Linked DNA regions of Homo sapiens: regions 2 and 3 are each linked to region 1. Evidence: fine-mapped expression QTL. A gene starts in region 1. Each other region holds a variant in brackets. All regions are shown on one strand. Distances are from middle to middle.

Evidence for each region.
Region 2: its variant is fine-mapped to the expression of ADGRG3 in whole blood (TOPMed, PIP above 0.99).
Region 3: its variant is fine-mapped to the expression of ADGRG3 in whole blood (TOPMed, PIP above 0.99).

The regions. Positions count from the first base shown.
Region 1 is chr16:57,665,634-57,670,633 of GRCh38, reverse strand. It overlaps ADGRG3 (adhesion G protein-coupled receptor G3), which reads right to left and starts at 2,328. Exons shown (of 12, transcript NM_170776.5): 1 at 2,229-2,328. The coding sequence starts at 2,286.
Region 2 is chr16:57,692,177-57,697,870 of GRCh38, reverse strand. DRC7 (dynein regulatory complex subunit 7) reads right to left here and starts at 3,065. Exons shown (of 19, transcript NM_001289162.2): 1 at 3,019-3,065; 2 at 1,277-1,407. The variant C/G (reference allele first, on the strand shown) is at 2,845.
Region 3 is chr16:57,682,784-57,691,130 of GRCh38, reverse strand. It overlaps ADGRG3 (adhesion G protein-coupled receptor G3), which reads right to left. Exons shown (of 12, transcript NM_170776.5): 9 at 6,919-7,199; 10 at 6,648-6,741; 11 at 5,205-5,488; 12 at 1,753-2,779. The coding sequence ends at 2,670. Among named protein-coding and RNA genes, the nearest start is that of DRC7, 7.8 kb to the left of the region's middle. RefSeq lists enhancers at 890-939, 990-1,039, 1,180-1,289. The variant G/A (reference allele first, on the strand shown) is at 2,177.

The sequences.
Region 1 (5,000 bases):
AATGATAGATGAGCATGAATATAGTATGATCTATGTTGGCTTTTTAAAAAAGGGGAGAAGAGGGAGAGGAGGAAGAAGACAGAAACAGGGAGAGGGAAGAGAGGAGAGGGGAGGAGGGGTTGAGAGGGGAAGGAAGAGGACAGGAGAGGAGGGGAGATAACATTGTCAGCTTGAGGACGGGTGCCATTCTCTGCCATCCCGGCCCTGCTGTCATGAATGGGTCCAGGTGCAGGCCTCCCTCCCGGATTGCCATGAATTTCAGCGCAGGCATGTAAGTGAAGCTCTTGGCAAGCACCCTACACAGACAGGATCATTAAATATCTTTTCTGTGTTTATTCTTTGAAGACACTGCAAGCATTTCATGTAGACAAGGAGACCCTGTGCTAGGCCTGTGGGTGGGATAGCACTCCCCTCCTCTCCAGACCCTCTATGCTCCAGAGCCTGGCCTCCATGGACTGCCTCATTTGGGGGTCAGCAAGTGGAAAGTGGACTGGAGGTCAGAGGGCAGGAGGAGGGCAGAGTGGGCATTTGCCCCCACCCCGCATGGCTCCTTCAGCCCCTGCTGGCTCACCGTGAGCAAACCACCGCCATTTCCCTCCTGTAGCCACAGTCTGGCTGTAGAAGCCCAGGGGGCCACTCCCTCCTGGCCCCTTTAGACCTCACGGTGCTGAAGGCTGCCCCAGGTGCCAGCCTGCCCAGTGACCACCCTCCTTGCTCCCCGTGCCCTGCCCGCACCTTTGTCACGTGTCCCTTCATGCCAGGCCCTCCATTGCATCCACCCCTTGCTCAGCCCTAACAGCTGGGTCTCACATGCGAGCCCCCACCACACTGTGTCACTCCTGCAGACTGTGAGCCTTTTGAGGGCAGGGGCCAAGTGGTACCAGCAGGAGCAGAGGGCACCATCGATGCTTCCTGAATGAATGAATGAATGAATGAATGCGCAAATGGAGAATGGAGACTAACACATCACTGTCCACACAGGAAGTGTGCAGACCTTCCTGTGTGTAGACCTCTCAGAGCTCCTTGCTCAATCAAATGGCTGCTGCTCTGCCCCAACCAGAGCACCCACATCACCATGGGGGAAACAGCATCACCTGGAGGAGGCTTGAAGGCCCAACCAGCGATGACAGCTGGGACCTGAGGACGCCCATGAGCCCTGGTCACAGCTGCCATCGGTGGCTCCGTTCATTCATCTATCAAGGGCTGCCTGGTGGCCTGCTCTGTACCAGGGCCTCCCGGGGCCACTAGGAGGACAGTGCTGTCATCTCCCACCCTTTTTTGAGCCAGGGACTGATTCACTCCACTGAATCTTCCAATGTTTGAAAAGAAGAGGGTTATTTGAAGACCAAATAAGTTGATCTATGTGGCCAAAGTCACGCGACCACACGCTGGACACACAGGGAGATGGACATGCAGGCCCCTCACCGAGTCAGGAGCAAAAAGAGAGTGGCCTGCAAGGCCCTGAGACAGGAGCACTGAGGAGGGAGCACTAACGGGGGAGCACCTCCCTCTGTCCGAGAGGGTTGCTAAGACGCCACAGAGGCCAAGAAGGGTAAATGGAGCTGGCTAAGTGGGCAAGGGGTAGGGGGACAGCTTTCCTGGGAGAGAGGCCAGCAAAGGCAAGGCCCGGGCACTTCCATGGCCTCTGGAGACGCACCATGTGTTTGTGTGTGAGACGGGAGAGTGACGGGGAGGAGTGTGGATCCTGGCTCAGGCCACTGAGGACCAAGAGGTTGTGGCTGAGACTGGGAGAGGGAGCCGGTGTGGGGTGACATGTGCGGGAGGAGAGGTCCAGAAGAACGAGGTGACAGACCTTCCTGGCCTCAGCTTCCAGAGTGTCTGAATCCCGTCCCCAGGATCTCACAAGCCAGCTGGAGAATTGCCTGCCCGGGGCCAACCCCTGTCTCAGAGCCAGGCCTGTCAGGGAGACACAGCCCAGGTTGGGGAGTCAGGGAGCACCCTCCGACCTCCCCTATCTCCAGGGCACTGTGGAGCAACAAAGGGAACCTGAGACCAGTCCTGAGCAAGGTTTAGTGGAAGGACAGGACTGACCCAAAGGGACAGGGCTAGAGAAGGTGCTGAGGCGGCCACGGGGGGTATCGGAGGACACATCCCAGACACCCCAACTCCTCACCTTCTCCAGTCCCTGCGTCTGTCCCTGGATCCCTCCCTCGGCAGGGCAGGGTCGGCCCAGCGTGGCAGGAGGGGATGAGGTGCCAGCCACTCACCTGAGGTCGGGAGCAGGAGGAGCAGGAGCAGGGCCCCCAGGCCCCTGGGCGTCGCCATCCTTGGCCAGCCTTGCCCACGCCAGGAGCTCTGTGGCTGTCTGGCCCTCTGGCCCCAGGCTCTGCTGAGCTGGCCTGCCCCCACCCTGCAGCCCCACCACTCTGGCTTCCTGTGTCCTCTTTCTCACCCTTCCTGCTCGATGGCGCCATTGGTTGGGTTGTGAAAGGTGAGTGTGGGGAACTGGGCAGTGCTCCCAGTCTCACCGCACCCTGGGTCCACCTGCAGAGGGAGCTGCTGAGCCCACCCAGGTATGTGCCCCCGGGGCCCCACTGGGGTGGGATCTACGGGGCTAGGGGCTGGGTGGCCACAGGGGCCTGGCTCAGAGCGGATCCCTGGGAACTGTGGTGAGCACAGGCTTTGGAGTCAGGCGCACCTACTCAGACCCCTCCTCTCACAAGCTGGGAGCCTCTCTGAGCCTCAGTTTCCTCCTCTGTAAAGTGAAGATGGCAATGGGGCTGCCTCCTAAGGCTGTGTCAGGGTTTGATGAGACCTGCAACAAGCTGGGCACAGAGCCTGGCTCTGGGCATGAGGACGAAGACCCAGATGGTGCCTATGGCTTGAACCAGGCTGGAGGGTGTGGGAGGAGAGCAGGAGCTGGCCCTGCAGCCTGAGCTTCCCCCACCAGCCTGGATAACAGGACGGACCCAGAGGCAGGGTAGCGGGAAGACAGCAGTGCGGCCCCGGGGGCTGGTCAGGCCTGAGCTAACATCCATCCTGGCCACTTCCTGGCCGGGTGACCTTGCATGCACTGTCTGTCACCCTGAGCCTCCCGAGGTGTGTGATGAAATCATGGATGACGCAGGCGGAGCCGCCTGTGGCCATTACATCATTTCTGATCATCAGAGCTGTGAAATTGTTGTCTTTACACCCCAAATGGTCACTGATCAGGTGGGAGGTGGGGGTGGCAAACACTCCTGGGCTTCAGCCTAAAGGAATTAGGGCGCCAGCCACTCGGGCCAACTCTGGAGGCCCCACGGATGCACTGTGCATGAGGCCATGGCCACTTGGCAATTGGAAGGTGAAGGGCATCCCACCAAGGTGTGTGGTTGCTGGCATCCCCCTCTGGCCCACGGGGCTGGCACTAGCCCTACTCAGCCTTGGGATTGAACTGGGGAGCCGCTCAGCCCCTGCTGGCCTCCATTTCCTCCTCCTCCCACTCAGTGTCTCCTGCTGAGCCCTCTGGGTCTGGGAAGGGGTAGGGAGGGGATGTCAGGGTCACTCATGGTGTGGGAGCAGGTGGGAATTCAGCATGGAGCAGCAGGTCAGAGCCCAGGGCTTCCTGAGCCCCAGAAACTTCCTCTGCAGGGAGGGCTGCGAAGGCAGATGAATGGCTGGGCCTGCCACTGCTCCACACCTGGCCAGCCTTCTCCTGGAAGATCTGCAGACCTCCCTCCCAGCTGCAGGTGAGGGTGAGGTGGGGCAGTGGACTTGGATGTGCTGGGCCCATCGCTGAAGCCCCATCCTGGCACCTGGGCCCTCAGAGAGGCTCGCAGGTACCAGTGTGTGAAGAAGCGCCTGGGGGTGAGCAGACTGAGATTCCGAGCAGCCAGCCCACCTGGGAAGTGGGCAGAGGGCAGGTGCAGGGGAAGGTCAGGCAGGGCTGGAAGGAGGGCCACCTTTTCCTAAGGCCCCTTCCCTGAAACGCCCCCTGGGGACCAGGGACTAGCCTGGAGCCACTCACAGAACCCTGAGACCCCCCCCAACCCCAGGGCCAACAAAACAGTAGTGTCCCTTCCTGCCGCCTCCTGCCCCAGCTTCTCCCAATGGCTCCAGTGGGCAGGGCCTCAAGTCCTCCAGCGAGACCCAGCCAGCATTCAGCCCTCAGCTGCTCCAATCCATTTCCCAAGCTAAAGGGATGTTTCCAGATGCACGCCTGGCCACATGCTGGCAGAAAGGGCGATCCCACTGTCCAAAGCCCCACAGCCTGGGAAAGTGCATGATAATAACCATCGGGGTAAAAGGATCAGCATGGAACTGTTGGTGCCCTGTGCAGGGCCTACCTGAGAAGGTGAGACCCAACCCAAGACCCCTCCCCACTACCTGAGCCAGCCTCAGATGCAGAAACAAAATGTTTGAGAAGCAGGAGAATTGCGGAGGAACGGGGCTGGGTCATTTCCCCCCCATTCTGGAAGATGGGGGGAGTTGCCTCAACCCCCATCCCAGGACCTAGCCCAGCCATGGGGCTCTGAGAGACCCCCCTCACGGAGACCTAGAAGCCTGTAAGGAGGGAAGCTGGCTTTGATCCCCCGGGGCTGCCCAATCCGGACACTGGGGTAGGGGAGGCTTGGGAAGGTTTGGCCTCTGTCCTTTGGAGCTGGGGGCATAAGAGGAGCCCCCCACCTGCAGAAAGGTGGGGACAGAGGTCAGTGGAGGGAGTGGAGGGGGTGGAGGGAGGGCTGGGAGAGCAGCAGGGCACAGGGGTTCTTGGTCCCTGCAGGTCCCAAGATCCCACATTCACGCCCCTCAGAGGGCACTGCCAGTCTAGACCCAGCTGCCTCACACCCACCTTGTCCAATCCAAGACTCTGAGCCTCTTCCCCTGCTGGGCATCCCCCTAGAGTGGCCAGGGGAGGAGGGAGGAGCCTGCAGAAGGGAGAGAGTGGACTGTGGGCCTTGGGGAGGACTTTGGCTGCACTGGGACCTCTTACCTGAACACAGTAGCAATGATCCGTTGTGACTGCCCTCATCACAGGGAAGATGGGAACCTGCGTGATC
Region 2 (5,694 bases), 27 kb before region 1:
CAGGCAGGAGCCACCAACACCATCTGGGCATCCCCGGGAGGCCTGGGAGATGGTTTTGAGGAGGTGTCGAACACATAGGGAGTGATTCCCTCTTTGACTTCCTTTCAAACATGGAGAAAGTCTCTGTTTGGTGCTACCCCATCTGTAACACCTTTCTAATCCTGGCAAATATTCCTTTACAACAAAGACAAAGCAGGCCTCCGGTTGGAAGCCATCCTCAGGACAGGACAGGGAAAGGCACGTGTCGATTTGCTTTTAGTATATTTGACAGTTATCTTTTTTTTTAAATTTTTTATTTTTTTGAGACAGGGTCTTGCTCTGTCACTCAGGCTTGGAGTGCAGCAGCACGATCATGGCTCACCGCAGCTTCAAACTCCCAGGCTCAAGCAATCCTCCCACCTCAGCCTCCCCAGTAGCTGAGACCACAGGTGCACACCACCACACCTGGCTATTTTTTTTTTTTGGTAGAGACAGGGTCTGGCTATGTTGCCCAGGCTCAAACTCCTGGCCTCAAGCGATCTTCCTGCTTTGGCCTCCCAAAGTGCTGGGATTACAGGCATGAGCCATTGTGCCAGCTGACAGTTATCAATGACAAGTACTGTGAATGCTGTGGGGATTACTATAGTATTGTCAAGTTTCTTATTTAAATAAATGAATTGGCTGGGTGCGGTGGCTCATGCCTGTGATCCCAGCACTTTGGGAGGCCGAGGCAGGTGGATCACTTGAGGTCAGAAGTTCGAGACCAGCCTGGCCAATATGGCGAAACCCCGTCTCTACTAAAAATACAAAAATTAGCCAGGCGTGGTGGCACACGCCTGTAATCCCAGCTACTCAGGAGTCTGAGGCAGGAGAATCACTTGAACCTGGGAGGCAGAGGTTGCAGTAAGTTGAGATCGCACCACTGCACTCTAGCCTGGGTGACAGAGTGAGACTCTGTCTCAAATAAATAATAAATAAATAGATTGGTTTAAAGAAAATCCTAACGGTAAGGTGATATGATCTACAACCCACCCAAAAATGAGGATGGCAGGTGAATGATATCTCACCTGATCAAACTGGGAACCGAGGCACAGAGAGTGAAGGTGCCTGCACCAGGGCATACAAACAGGGAGTGGGGGGTGGGGGTAACACAGCCTACTCTCTCTTGGCCAAGGCCTGTGTTGGCCCAGAGAACAGGCTTCATTCTGTGATCCACGCAGAGACGCCACATGTGCTCACCATATGTCCTGTGGTCACAGAGCAGAGCCACACTGAGCGGGGACTGCTAGTCACCTACCCAAAGATCCAGTCTCCTCTTCTATACGGCAGAACCCCAGTTGTGTGGGGGGCAGCAGTGTGCCTGGTTTGAATTGCTCAGCTTCCCAGATTCTCTTGCAGCTAGAGGTGGCCCTGCGATGTGACCCGGTTCTGGCCAATGAGATGTGGGCAGAAGTGATTGGGGAGCCCTCTGCCCTTCTCCTCCTCCCACCTGGAATGTGGAGATAAAGTGGGAGGTGGGGCAGCCAAGGCGAGACCATGAGGTGGCCACACATGAGGGCTAAAGCTGCCTGCTATGGACGGCAGGGCCGAGAGATGGGGGAGCTGGGGTCCCCAGCAGTGCCACAGAGGCCTGGAGTGCCACCTCTAGCCTTTCCTTATATAAGAAACCTCAGCTTCTATGGGGGTCCCTGTTCCACACCACCCAACGCCATCCCAGCTGATGCACTATCTGCAGCCTCCCAGCTGGGGTCTTTCCATTTCTGTCCTCGAACATCTGTTTTCCTTACGGCAAATGGGGGTCCAGAGATGAGGAAAACAAACGAAACCCACAGGACAAAGGGGGCGAGTAGTAAGGAAAAAAAGCAGAATCCCCTTGATTTTCTAATCATCCCCCACTTCCCTGGGTGAAGCCAGGAGCAAGAGGGCAGAAGGGAGCAGCAGATAAAGGCTGGCCCCAATTTCCAACTCCACACCCACATGGGCCACCTCGGCCTCCTAGGGAGGTGAGTCCCTGGCCACCAGCCACGACTGAGCCTGGTTGGGGAAACCCTGGCTTTGCCAGTAGCTCCTGCTGGACCCTTGGGTCACTGTCTGCGCCTTTCTGTGCCTTAGTTTCTCTTTATAGTAGGAAGGGAGGGCAGATATTTTCTGTCCAATTCTGACATTCTGTGCTCTGGGACTCAGGAGGGGACGAATGCTCATCTGGCTGGAAGCCACCCAAGGCCTAGGTAGCCCAACACCATTCAGGACCCCAGATCCTCAGGGGAGAACCTCTAGCCAAGCAGCACTTCTCAGTGATCAGATCCATTTGTTGGCCTCTTGGTCCCAGAGACAATGAGCCCAGGAAGGGCAGTCATCACCATTACAAGGCATTTACAGTTTGCTGAATGCCTACTGTGTGTCAGACCTGTGCTGAGGGTTGTACGGAGATCATCTCACTTATCCTCTACTGACTCTATGAGGCAGACACTGAGGACACCCACTTTGCAGATGAGAAGATTGGGGCCCAGAGAAGTTAAGTGCACTGCTTAAGGTACAGCCAGTAAGTAGCAGGTCTGGGATTTGAACCCCTGTATTTCTGGTTGTGAAACCTGTGTGTCTCAGGCTGGAAGAGATATGAGATGGGGAAGTGCTAGAAGGGATGGTGGGGGTGGGGGAGTGGTGGGCAAGGAAAGAAGTAGGCTGAAGAGGAAGCCGACGTGTCAGTCCCAGAACACCATCAGAGGCAGAGCTGGGGAGAAGAACCCACAGCACTTTATTCCCTACACAGGTGGCCTCTTCAGCTATAGCCCAGTGTGGGGAAGGCAGTCTTATCTCAAGGTTCCTTAGATTCTGCCCCAACCCACCGGCCCTTCCCTGCACCCC[C/G]TCTCCACCAGCAACTTCCTCCTCCCAACACACATAAACACGCACACACACCCCACCAACAACTTCCCCAGAAAGATCAGGGCTGGAGGCCCCCAGGCAGAAGGGGGCCACCAGCCTCACCCTTTCCCTGCCAGACAGGGTCCAGCCACCCCAAGTCCCTTGCTCCCTCCTCACCCCTCCGAGGACAGCCTGCTCTAGCTGTTAGCCATCTCCATGGTAACAACCTGGGAAGCTGAACGCCGGTCCTGGGAGAGGAGGCTTCTGGGAAATGTAGTCTTCCCAGGTTTCATGGGTCCTTCTGCCAGCGGTGCACTGGTATAGTGGGGCATCAACTTGATAGTTGTTAAACTTTCCAAAATTTTTGTGAAACACAGCCATTATTAAAAATTAAGAGGGCTGGGCACGGTGGCTCACACTTGTAATCCCAGCACTTTGGGAAGCCAGGGCGGGAGAATCCTTTGAGCCCATGAGTTCAAAACCAGCCTGGGCAATATATAGTGAGAACCTCTCTAAAAAAAAAAAAAAAAAAAATTGGCCATGGGGTTATTTACACCACAAAAATTAGCAAACGCCAAGACCAGGGCTTTTCCTCTGAGCCAGCCAGTTGTTAAACATTTACCAGCACAGCACAGCCCCTGCCCCACGGCATGCCGAATGTGGCCTTGATCGAGACAGACAGAAACCAGTGTGGGGCCTGGAGTAGCTGCCAGCTGCGGTGGACAGAACCAGGCTGCCTTGACTGAGTCCTGGGTTCTAGTCCAGGCCGGAGCTGTGATGTAGAACATTACCTCGAAGTACGGGGAAAACCTATCCATTAGGCTAGTGGCTCATGAAAATGTTTAATTTCTTTTAAATTCAGAAGAAAAAAATGAGAATAATAATGACTATATAAGTGTGAATCTGCCCTGAATTATATCTGTGTTTTTACCAATACAGTCCTAAAATATAATCTTCACTGTTTTATTTTTGGAGGGAGGGGTGCATGGGCCTTTTTTGGTCAGGGGATAGGGCTGCCAGGAGGGAATCCAGACTGTCACTGTGCTGACAAGTTTGCACAGTTAGTGTTACTGCTAGAAACTTAGGAATTGCCTCAATTCTCATGAATAGAGAATGATGTTCCCCCTCCCAGCTGGAATATCATGCAGCCATAAAAATAAGCTGTAAAGGATCAATTGCACTGTGGAGAGCTCACGAGACAGTGTGTGTAGTATTTCAGACTTGGTGCTAAAGGATCAATTGCACTGTGGAGAGCTCACGAGACAGTGTGTGTAGTATTTCAGACTTGGTGCTAAGCAACTCGTAATTACCTCTGTGGGGAACTGGCTGGGATGAAGGCAGGAAGGGAGGAGGGAGGAGAAAGGAAAACAGGTGATGCGTTATGCTAGTGGGATGCAGCATAGGCTTCATTGTCCTTTTTCAACCCTATGCAACACTTCATTCCTTTTACATATTTATTCATTCCTTTTTCTCTTCATACCCACTTTCATTTCCCACCTCTATAAAGTAACCATTCTGATGTGTATTTTTTTTTTCCAAAATGAGTATTGTTTGGCATGCTGGTGTTTTTAATATATGTTTAATATGAGACTGAACAAATATATCCTTCTGGTTCTTATATTTTCATGAAGGGCTGTGTTTTTAAGATCTCTCCACGTTATTGTGTGGATCCACACTTATTACCTCTTCGTCCTTCCAGTGACGGGCACTCGGTGTCCAGGTGTTCTAGAGGGAGCTTTCAATGTCCCCAGGCACTGATAGTTGTTTAGGTTGTTGCTGGAAACATGGAAAGATCAAACAAATGCTAAACGTGCCCCAGCCCTGAACCGAATCCCTTAAACACTCATATAAACTCCATAAACCCACCTCCTCGTTATGAACAGACTCATCTCCCTTCTTGCTGTCTGTCATGAGAACACTACAGCCTTCCCTATGTACGTTTCCCTAATAAATGCTTTGGATGGATACGGATCACCCCGGCGCTTAGTGTTTATTTCTTTGGAATTCCAACTGGCCCTACCTCTTGACGGTTTGGGGCAGTCTTGAGGGAACTCCCCAGCAGACATTGGGTGGGCTGGACAGACCACTCAGATTTGCTACCAGCTCCCTTCCATCACAGACAATGCTACACAGGTCTAGAGGGGTCTAGATCTGGAAGAATGTTTCTTCAAGATAAACAACCAGTAGCAAGATTGCTGGCTCAGCAGAAGCACTGTGTTTTTCTCCAGGCAGCTGAAGCAGTCTAGACTCTCCCTGGCTCCCATATCGTCCCTGCCCATTGGTACCATCTAGCTTTCTAGTTCATCAGTTTAATAAGGATACAATGAGGTCTCATTGTCATTTCAGTCTGCAGCTCTCTGATGACTAATGATTTTAAATGTGTCTTCATGAACTAATGTGTTAGTTTTAGGTATTTCCTCCTCTGAAAATAATGATGCCACCTTTGTCACGTATTAAATCCCCCAGGTGTCCATGGGTCTGCCTCTGAGCACTCTGTGCTGTTCCACTGATCTTCTTTCCTATCCCTGCACAGACACCACGTTGCATTTACCAAACTGGCCTTGTAATATCTTTATGTCTAGAGGTCAAGTCTTCCTTCTATGCCCCTCTTTCTGTTTTTTCTTTCTGAGACAGGGTCTAGCTCTGTCGCCCAGGCTAGAGTGCACAGGCATGATCTCGACTCACTGCAACCTCCACCTCCTGTATGCCCTCTTTCATTAAGATTGACTTAGCTATTTGAGGTCTATATGCCTCCATATCAATTTTAAAAGTTTCTGGAGAAGCAAAAAAAAATAAATTAGAATATTTATTTTTTTCCCTTATTTTATTTTATTGTAGAGACAGGGTCTTGCT
Region 3 (8,347 bases), 19 kb before region 1:
CTCCTTCTTCCTCCTCCTCCTTCTCCCTCCTTCTTCCTCCTCCTCCTCCTTCTCCCTCCTCTTCCTTCTCCTCCTTCCTTCTCTTCCTTCTTCTCCTCCTTTTTTTTTTTAAAAACATGGTCTTGATTTGTCATCCAGGCTGGAGTGCAGTTACGTCATCATAGCTCACTGCAGTCTTGAACTGCTGGGCTCGAGTGGTCTTCCTGCTTCTTCTTCCAAGTAGCTACCATGCCTAGATATATTTTTTTTTTTTAAGAGACAGAGTCTTGCTCTGTTGCCCAGGCTGGAGTACAGTGGCACAATCTCAGCTCACTGCAACCTCCACCTCCCAGGTTCAAGCAATTCTCCTGACTCAGCCTCCTGAGTAGCTGGGACTGCAGGCGCACGCCACCATGTCCAGCTAATTTTTTTTGTATTTTAGTAGAGACGGGGTTTCACCATGTTGCCCAGGCTGGTCTCGAACCCCTGGGCTCAAGCAATCCTCTTGCCTTGGCCTCCCAAAGTGCTATGACTACAGGTGTGAGCCACCAAGCCCAGTCAAGGACCAGGTGATAATCCTTAAACTCAGGGACCACTCTGGGATGAGGGCAACCCGGGGAGGCCTGGCCCTAGCTTCAACCCAGCCCATGGAGTGACCTTAGTTGGGCAGGTGGCTGGGCCTGTCTGGACCTCCATTTCCTCATGCCATTACCCTTGGCTGGTCTTTCTTTAAATCAAGGCAGGGTGGGGGAGCTGACTAACTCCTGCGGAGTCAGTGCTGGGCACTTTATTTCTGTCACTTCATTTAATGCTGTCAGGATGAGGTGAGGACTTTATAATCCCCATTTTATGGATGGGGAAACTGAGGCTCAGAGAGGTGAAGTAAAATGCCCAGGATCACACAGCTCCTAAGTAGCCGAGCCAGGATTTAAGCCCAGACCTATCAGATGGTGGAACAGCTGTTTCTCAGGTTACCATCCCTGAGGCTTTGAGATAAGGAAGTTGAGACCTTCAGTGTGAGAAACAGATGTCTGTGAAGATAAGCCCCAAAACACACCAAGTTTGTCCACCAGAACTGCTCCTGTGGCTCAAATGATGCAATGTCCACGCCCCAGAATTTCCCTTCCAGGAACACAGCGCCTTGCATAAAGTGAGGGCCCACCTTCCTGTCTTTCAACTGCTTGTGGGCTGGGAGGGGAAGCGAAGCGCATCCATTTGCAGTCAACGTCAGCACCCAGCATCCGGACGGGGAGGTGGGCTGCAGCCCGCAGCTTCCAGGGCTGTTGGGGGAGGCCTAACAGTGACAGTAACTTCTCACCTGCAGACAGGGCTTGACAGTCCACAGAGCTCCCTGGAGAGGGTCGGGGGCCGGGTAGGGAGAATGGTTGGTAAGTTGTGAGTAGAGTGAGGGATGGACTTGTGCGGTGAGGCTCCAGGGAGGGGAATGATGTCAACACTCACTGCTCCCCCCGAGGAGGGGGGTCGCTGGAGCCGGCGTGGGGCTGCCATCTCTCTGCATCTGTCTCTCCGCCACCGTTCTCCCTCTTTGTGTCAGCCTGTCTGTTAAGTCTCTCTCTCCTTCTCTCCATCTCTGTATCTCTACCCCATCTCTGCTATCTCTGCCTCTTTTTGTTTCCTACTGAGAAACCTGCATGCGATTGTGACATGGAGCCCCAGCTGCTGGAAGTACCCTGCCCAACCTAGGTCTGGCCTGAGACACCCCCCTTGGCTCAGGGATCTGCCAGGCTGGTGCCAAACTCATACATCCACTCATTCAGCCAACAAATATTTATTCAAGGTTTGCCACGAGCCAGACCCTGTGCTTGGCCTGGGCTGGAACAGTAAGCGAGGCCACCCAGGTCCTTGTTCTCTAGGAGCTCAGGTCCTAGTGGCAATGCCCAGCCTCTGCTCAGGGGCCCCACACACTGAATGAGTGGGAGCACCCCCAGGTGTGCTGAGCCCCAGATTGTTTGCTTTCTACCTCTACGATGACAGCAGGTCAGAGGTCGGGCCACCCACGTGGCAGTCAGAGTCAGGAGTGGGGGGTTTGCCCAAGGTAGCTCACCCACTCAGTGGTTCTTTGAAATGCAGTGTCCCTGGACACGTGCAGGGCTGCCAGCACTCTGAACACGGGGGTCTCTTCCAGGAGGGTGGGCTCTGATTGGATGGGCAGAGACCAGGGGCAGACTGGGTGGGA[G/A]GATCAACTCCCACCCCCCAAAACAAACCCCCAGTGCCTGAGGGAACGCTGGCCTCCTGAATGCCCCTCAAGGTTACAGGCAGCCAGAAGGGGAGTTGTGGGAGGCCAGTGACAAGGAGGAGGAGGGGAGAGGCTGGGGGCTCCTTCCAGGGCTATGCCAGCAACAGACTCTCCTCCCTTGCTGAGACCAGAAGGTGAGTGAGGGCTTTGCAATGAGGGCAGGGCATGGAGGTGACTGTCACTCTTTGCTGGCAGGGGGTCTCAGGACTATAGGAACTTTAGAGCCTTGCAAACCTGCTTACGTGGACTCTTGGACCTATAGTTGGATCTGGATGGGACCTCTGATGCCACGTGGTCCAACCTGGTCCCATCCTCTCCCTCCCCAGCCACATTGTACAGAGAAGGAAACTGAGGGAGTACAGAGAGAGGCACGGAGCTGCCCAAGGTCACACAGAGAGCCAGAGCTGAGTCCATATTGCAGGGCCGTGCCTTCCTATTCTTGAGATGCGGAGTGGGCCTGGTCCAATCTTGCAGTAGAGGAGGAGACTGTGGTGCTCTGACTTGGGAGGTAAAGGATGGTGAACCAGCAGCAGATGAAGACACCTGTTAGGAAGGAGAGGCCTCGGTGAGCCTGGAAAGGGGTGGGCAGAGAGTGGGGCAGCCTGGGCTGGTGGCTGCTGAGAGGGAGGAGACCCACCGTAACCACTCAAGAACTGCTGGGAAAGGCAAAAATGCAACCATTTCACAACCATTTCAAAAATGAAATAAAAAAGAACCAAATCGAAATCTTGGAAATGAAAAACAGAGACCTTCAAATAAAATATCTACCTATGCCTATTACAGAAAAGAAAGAGCAAAATAGAGGAATTTTCAGACATACAAAACAACCATCACTCCCTCTATAAAGGATTATTATGGGAGGCACTCCAGCAAGAGGAAAAGGGAAAGTGTGGGGTGAAAGAAATTATAGTAAGTACAGAACATGACTTAGAAAAACTCTATGTTTCAAGGAAATCTGTAACTAAACCTCTATATGCAAGACAAATATTGAGAAGAGTTCAATGGGCAATTCAAGTATACCAAGGGCTCTGTTGTATTGGAGAGGAAGAGAGAAATACAGAATAACTCAGACCCAGTGGAAACTTAGTAGAGTGAAGTGTGCAGGCTTACATATTAAGGTAACCTCTGAAAGAATAACGATGTCAGCTATAGTTTCAAAGTTCATTTCTCCCCAACCATCAACCCCTGGGATTCTCCAGGCATGGACTCATGATTCTCCACCTGGAGACAGCCTCAGATGGCCTTACAGTCATAATTTCTATGATTATTAATATAGTTCCCACATATTGAAGACCTAGTAGTTCCCACATATGCATTGTCATTGTTCATTGTGAAATCTGGCAGGCCAGGCACAGTGGCTCACGCCTGTAATCCCAGCACTTTCGGAGGCTGAGGCAGGTAGATCATCTGAGGTCAGGAGTTTGAGACCAGCCTGACCAGTATGGTGAAACCCCATTTCTACTAAAAATTCAAAAATTAGCTGGGCATGGTGGCATGTGCCTGTAGTTCCAGCTACTCAGGAGGCTGAAACCAGAAGAATTACTTGAACCCAGGAGGTGGAGGTCGCAGTGAGCTGAGATCGTGCCACTGCACTCCAGCCTGGGTGACAGAGCAAGACTCCATCTCAATTAAAAAAAAAAAAAAGCTGGTGAGATAAGTACGGGATTATCCCAATTTCGCGATGAATGAGGACGGAAGGAGCTGAGTGACTTGCTGGGTCAGGGATGGGGCTAGGATTTGGACCCAGGGCTGCCTGGCCCTAGCCACTAAGCCACACATCTCTCATGGGGCGCTGGGAGCCAGTCCTGGTCTTGGGGGCTTATACCCGCTGCATCTAGGACGCCTGGGTTTCTAGTGACTTCCCTGAACAGGTTGAGTCTCGTCACTCCTGTCTTGGCTGTTTCTCTCACAGTCAGACTGTGATGCCTCTCTGGGCTGTGGATGTAAGGAGCAAAGAGAACACATATAAACCATAGCACATGGACTGCTCTTACCCCTTTGCTGGGATCTCAGAGGAAGGGCCCTGCGGGGGCCAGTAACAAATACAGCAAGCATTTCCTTCCTACCTCCATAGATCCCTGGAGATCCCATCCATGTCATGTGGACATCATATCACATGATTCTGCCCTTCTGGTCGCAGCTGATTGGACCAGAGATGGACGATGGACACCCAACTTGCAAGGTCAGGTAGGGTTACGGCAGCCATGTTGGGTAACAATTTGGGGCCATGGGTAGTAAAGGGTAAGTGGAGAGAGAATGAAGGAGTTTCCACAGACACTAGGTGAGAGACTCCATAGCTCCAGGAAAAAGATAGAGAACGTATCTGCTTTGGTTTGGGTGGCTTTTTCTGATTCTGGTAGCAGCTCCCATGAAGGCAGCTGATATGTCTGGGATGTTTGTTGCTTCCAAATCTCATGTCCAAATGTGATTCCCAATGTTGGAGGTGGGGCCTGAGGGGAGGAGATTGGATCCTTGGAGCGGATCCTCATGCATGGCTTAGCACTATCCCCTTGGTGATGAGTGAGTGCTCACTTGGAGTTCATGCGAGATCTCGCTGTTTAAAACGGCATGGTGCCTCCCCACTCCCTTGCTCCCACTCTCGCCATGTGATACGCTGGCTCCCCTTTATCTTCCACCATGATTGGAAGCTTCCTGAGGCCTCACCAGGAGCAGATACTGGTGTTGTGCTTTGTCTAAAGCCTGCAGAACCATGAGCCAATTAACCCCATTTTCTTTATAAATTACCCAGTCTCGAGTATTCCTTTGTATTCTAGTAACACAAACGGACTAATACAGCAGCCAAACTTTGCTGCCCTGGATCCTTGCTCTGAGTATTTGAAATCAACATCCTTGACTTCAGCTAGCCTGAACAGAGTCCTGTGTCTTGCAAACCACCCTCTTCCCCACCTCCCAATACCTCCTGGGACAGACAACACAGCCCATCACCTCCCTGGTGCAGGGGCCTCACCTTGCAAGGAGTTGAAAAGTGCAAAGATGTAGACGGTGGAGAGGCCCAACGGGGTGAAGATGGCCAACCCCCATGTCACACCCACCAGGCTCGAGAGGCCCAGCAGGGTGAGCACCTTCTTCCGGTTCTTCCCCCGCTCCTTGACCGCTGTAGCACGGGACAGGGTGAAGATCTTCCAGACCACCAGGGCCAGGACCACCATGCCAAAGAGGAAGGTGATGAGGAAGTAGCCGTGGACGGTGATATAGAGGGCGTACATGGTTGTCCCTTCACGGAACCAGCATCTGGAGGAGGGGGCAGCTGTGGTGGGACTGGGAGTGGTACCTCTGGCCAGCAAACCCAGGAAGTCCCCTGGCTGAGCTTTTCTGTCTGTGAAGGTGCCTCTCCCATTTCCACCCATCAATCCCTGGCTCTCCCGCTGTGGGAGGGGCCGTCACCTGGCTCCAGTCTGGTGTCTCTTTAATGCCAAAGTGACCTCAAAGACATGTTTCATTTGCCCCATATTACATTGTGAAAAAAACGGAATTAGTGGCCGCCTTTAAAATCAGAAGCTTTGGTATAAACACCTAGATTTCTGCTTCTCCTATAAAATCATACACCTGGCAGCTCTGTGGATGCCCTCCTGAAGGATAGTAACTGACCGCTAATTAGATGGGCTTGTGACTGCCAGTCCGCTGCAGTCCCCACCTGGCCCACTGCCTGCACCTTTGTGACCCCTCCAGCTCCTGGGGCCCCTGCTTTTGAGGCCTGGGGACAGGTCCAAGGCCTCACCAGCTCCTCTTAGCACAGAGCCATGGGCCCAGTGGTGGGTGCCCCATGGATCCCAAGGTGTGAGTCTAGAAACTGAACTCAGCTCCACTGCCCTCTGCACTGCAGGGGCAAAGGGCCTCAAAGAGCATGTTGATCAGTTCCCCCATGGTGCAGATGAGGAGACTGAGGCCCTGGGAGAGATCGGGCCTGCCAAGATCACACACATAGCAGGCAGGGCAGAGCCCAGACTAGACCCAGGGCTACTGTGAATCACTGGGCAGGTGGTGGCCTGAACAAGGACACCTGGCTGGGCAGCAGGTGGGGGCTGAAATCCAACACACCCTCCACTCTCCAGGCTGCGCACCCCGCATGCGGACGGGGTGACCTTCTTTACTTTGCCTCAAGGTGCCATGTGGGCTCGTGTTGGCCCAGGCTCAAGTAAGGCATCCTGCCTCCTGGTCCAGTTCTCCCTCTCCTTTCTCAGGCCCCCTCTCTCATTTCACTTCCCCTCTCTCTCTCTAGGCTTCAGTTTACTTCTCTGTGCCATGAGCTAGCTGGATCTGAGGATTCTTCTGGTCTTGACATATTTGGTCTAGATTTTCCTAGAAATCCCTCCTCTCCCCACCTCTCTCCAGCCCCAATATGTGTAGCCGGGGAGCTGGCATCACCCCTGCTCCCACAGCCGCCACTCACAGCTCCAGAGAGGTGCGGTTCTCCCTATCACGGATGGTGTAGAGGCCGTAGCTGTTGGCACTCCCAGTGCCGATGACCATCAGGGCGGGCAGGCCTGGGCACAAGGGGAAATGGCATGACACCACTGGGGCTTACTGGCACTTCCTCCTCCACGTCCCCTCCAGATGGCCATCCCTCCAGCTCTGGGAACCCCTCCTCTCTCTCCCCAAGGCTATTTCCCTCTGCACCCTCAGGGCCGGCCGTTTATTCTGTCCATCCAGGCAGCACCTACCCCAGCCCACCAGGCTCAGCTTCAGGAAGTAGTGCCCGAAGTAGGTGTTGAAGACCCTGACAGCGAGCAGGTAGAGGTGGAAGGCTTCAAGGCCCATCCAGGTGAAGGCACAGAGCAGGAAGTAGTGGAAGACAGCCCCCCGGGCCCAGCAGGCAGCATCAGACCCCTTTGAGCCACTCCCCACATTGACCAAGAAGGCCAGATTCAGGAGGAACAGGCTGCCACCCAGGGCCACGTGGATCTTTGGGGCATCTTCTGACTTGAACCTCTCCCGGGAAAGCCTGGGGTGAGAAATAAGAGGCCCCAAGGGGCCACAGCTCCCATGGGGAGCTCCCATGAGGCACCCAAGCCTGTCCACCCCAATAGCCTATGGCTCTCCACCCCCACTGCCAGCTCCTGCCTGCTCATCCAGCTTCCATCCCTGCCGGCAGCCAGAGTGGGAGTGTCCTGAGGTTCAAGTCCAGGAGCCTCTCATGGCCCACGGGGCCCTGTGGGTTCCGGATCCTGCCAGCCTCATCCCTTGATCAATGTGAGGCAGGATAATAGGGAAAATGAGGCCAGAAAATGAGGCAGGAGAATAGCAAAGGGAATTAAAAGTTGGATAAAGGGCAGAATAAGTAAAAGCAGAGAATAGAAGCACGGTGAATGGGACGGGTGAGCAAGAAGTGAGATGAAAAGCAGAGGTTCAGCAGGCAAGACAAAAGTGACATAAAAAAGGGACCCCGTGGCCGGCAAGATCCGGACCAAACCAGTAAGGGGCAGCTCTTCAGAGATGGGCATTTACATTAGAGAGAAAAAGTTTCTTTCACATAACCCTGTATGATAATTAGCTACTTAAGGTTCATGCATATGGGCTGCATATCATGCATGTACTTAAAATTATGGGATGGAGGTGACACACAAACGTACACGGGCCCAAAGTAACTGAGCAACACACCTATCAGTCAAAAGCCAGACACTGGCTAGAGATTAGGCAGCCTTGGGAAGAGAAGAAAAAAAACACCTGGAATGACCCAAACTATACCAAGGTGAGGCTGATCTCATTTCGCAGAGGTCAGCTCTTCCCACTGTTCTCAATGCCTTTCCCTGCTCCCCAGCTCCTCCCACCTTCTTTGCCTGACTCCTCTTCTTCTGCCTTTCAAATGCCCCTTGGAGGTTTCCTTCTGGGGAGGCCATCTCTGAATGCCCCTTAGCCTGAGCTGAACTGGACATTTCCCAGCAGCATAGTGTAACTCCCCATCCTCTCTCTCCTCGGGTCTTTCCCATGCTGTGAACTTCAGGCCTAACAGTGGTGGGACCAGGGATCCATTGGTGAAGTGGATGGACAGATGGGTGGATGCATGAAGCCGAAAATGCAGTAGGAGAGTGAGGCTTAGAGAGGGACGGGAGCCTTATGGGGTCACAGAGCAGGGCAGGGGCTCCAACCCTG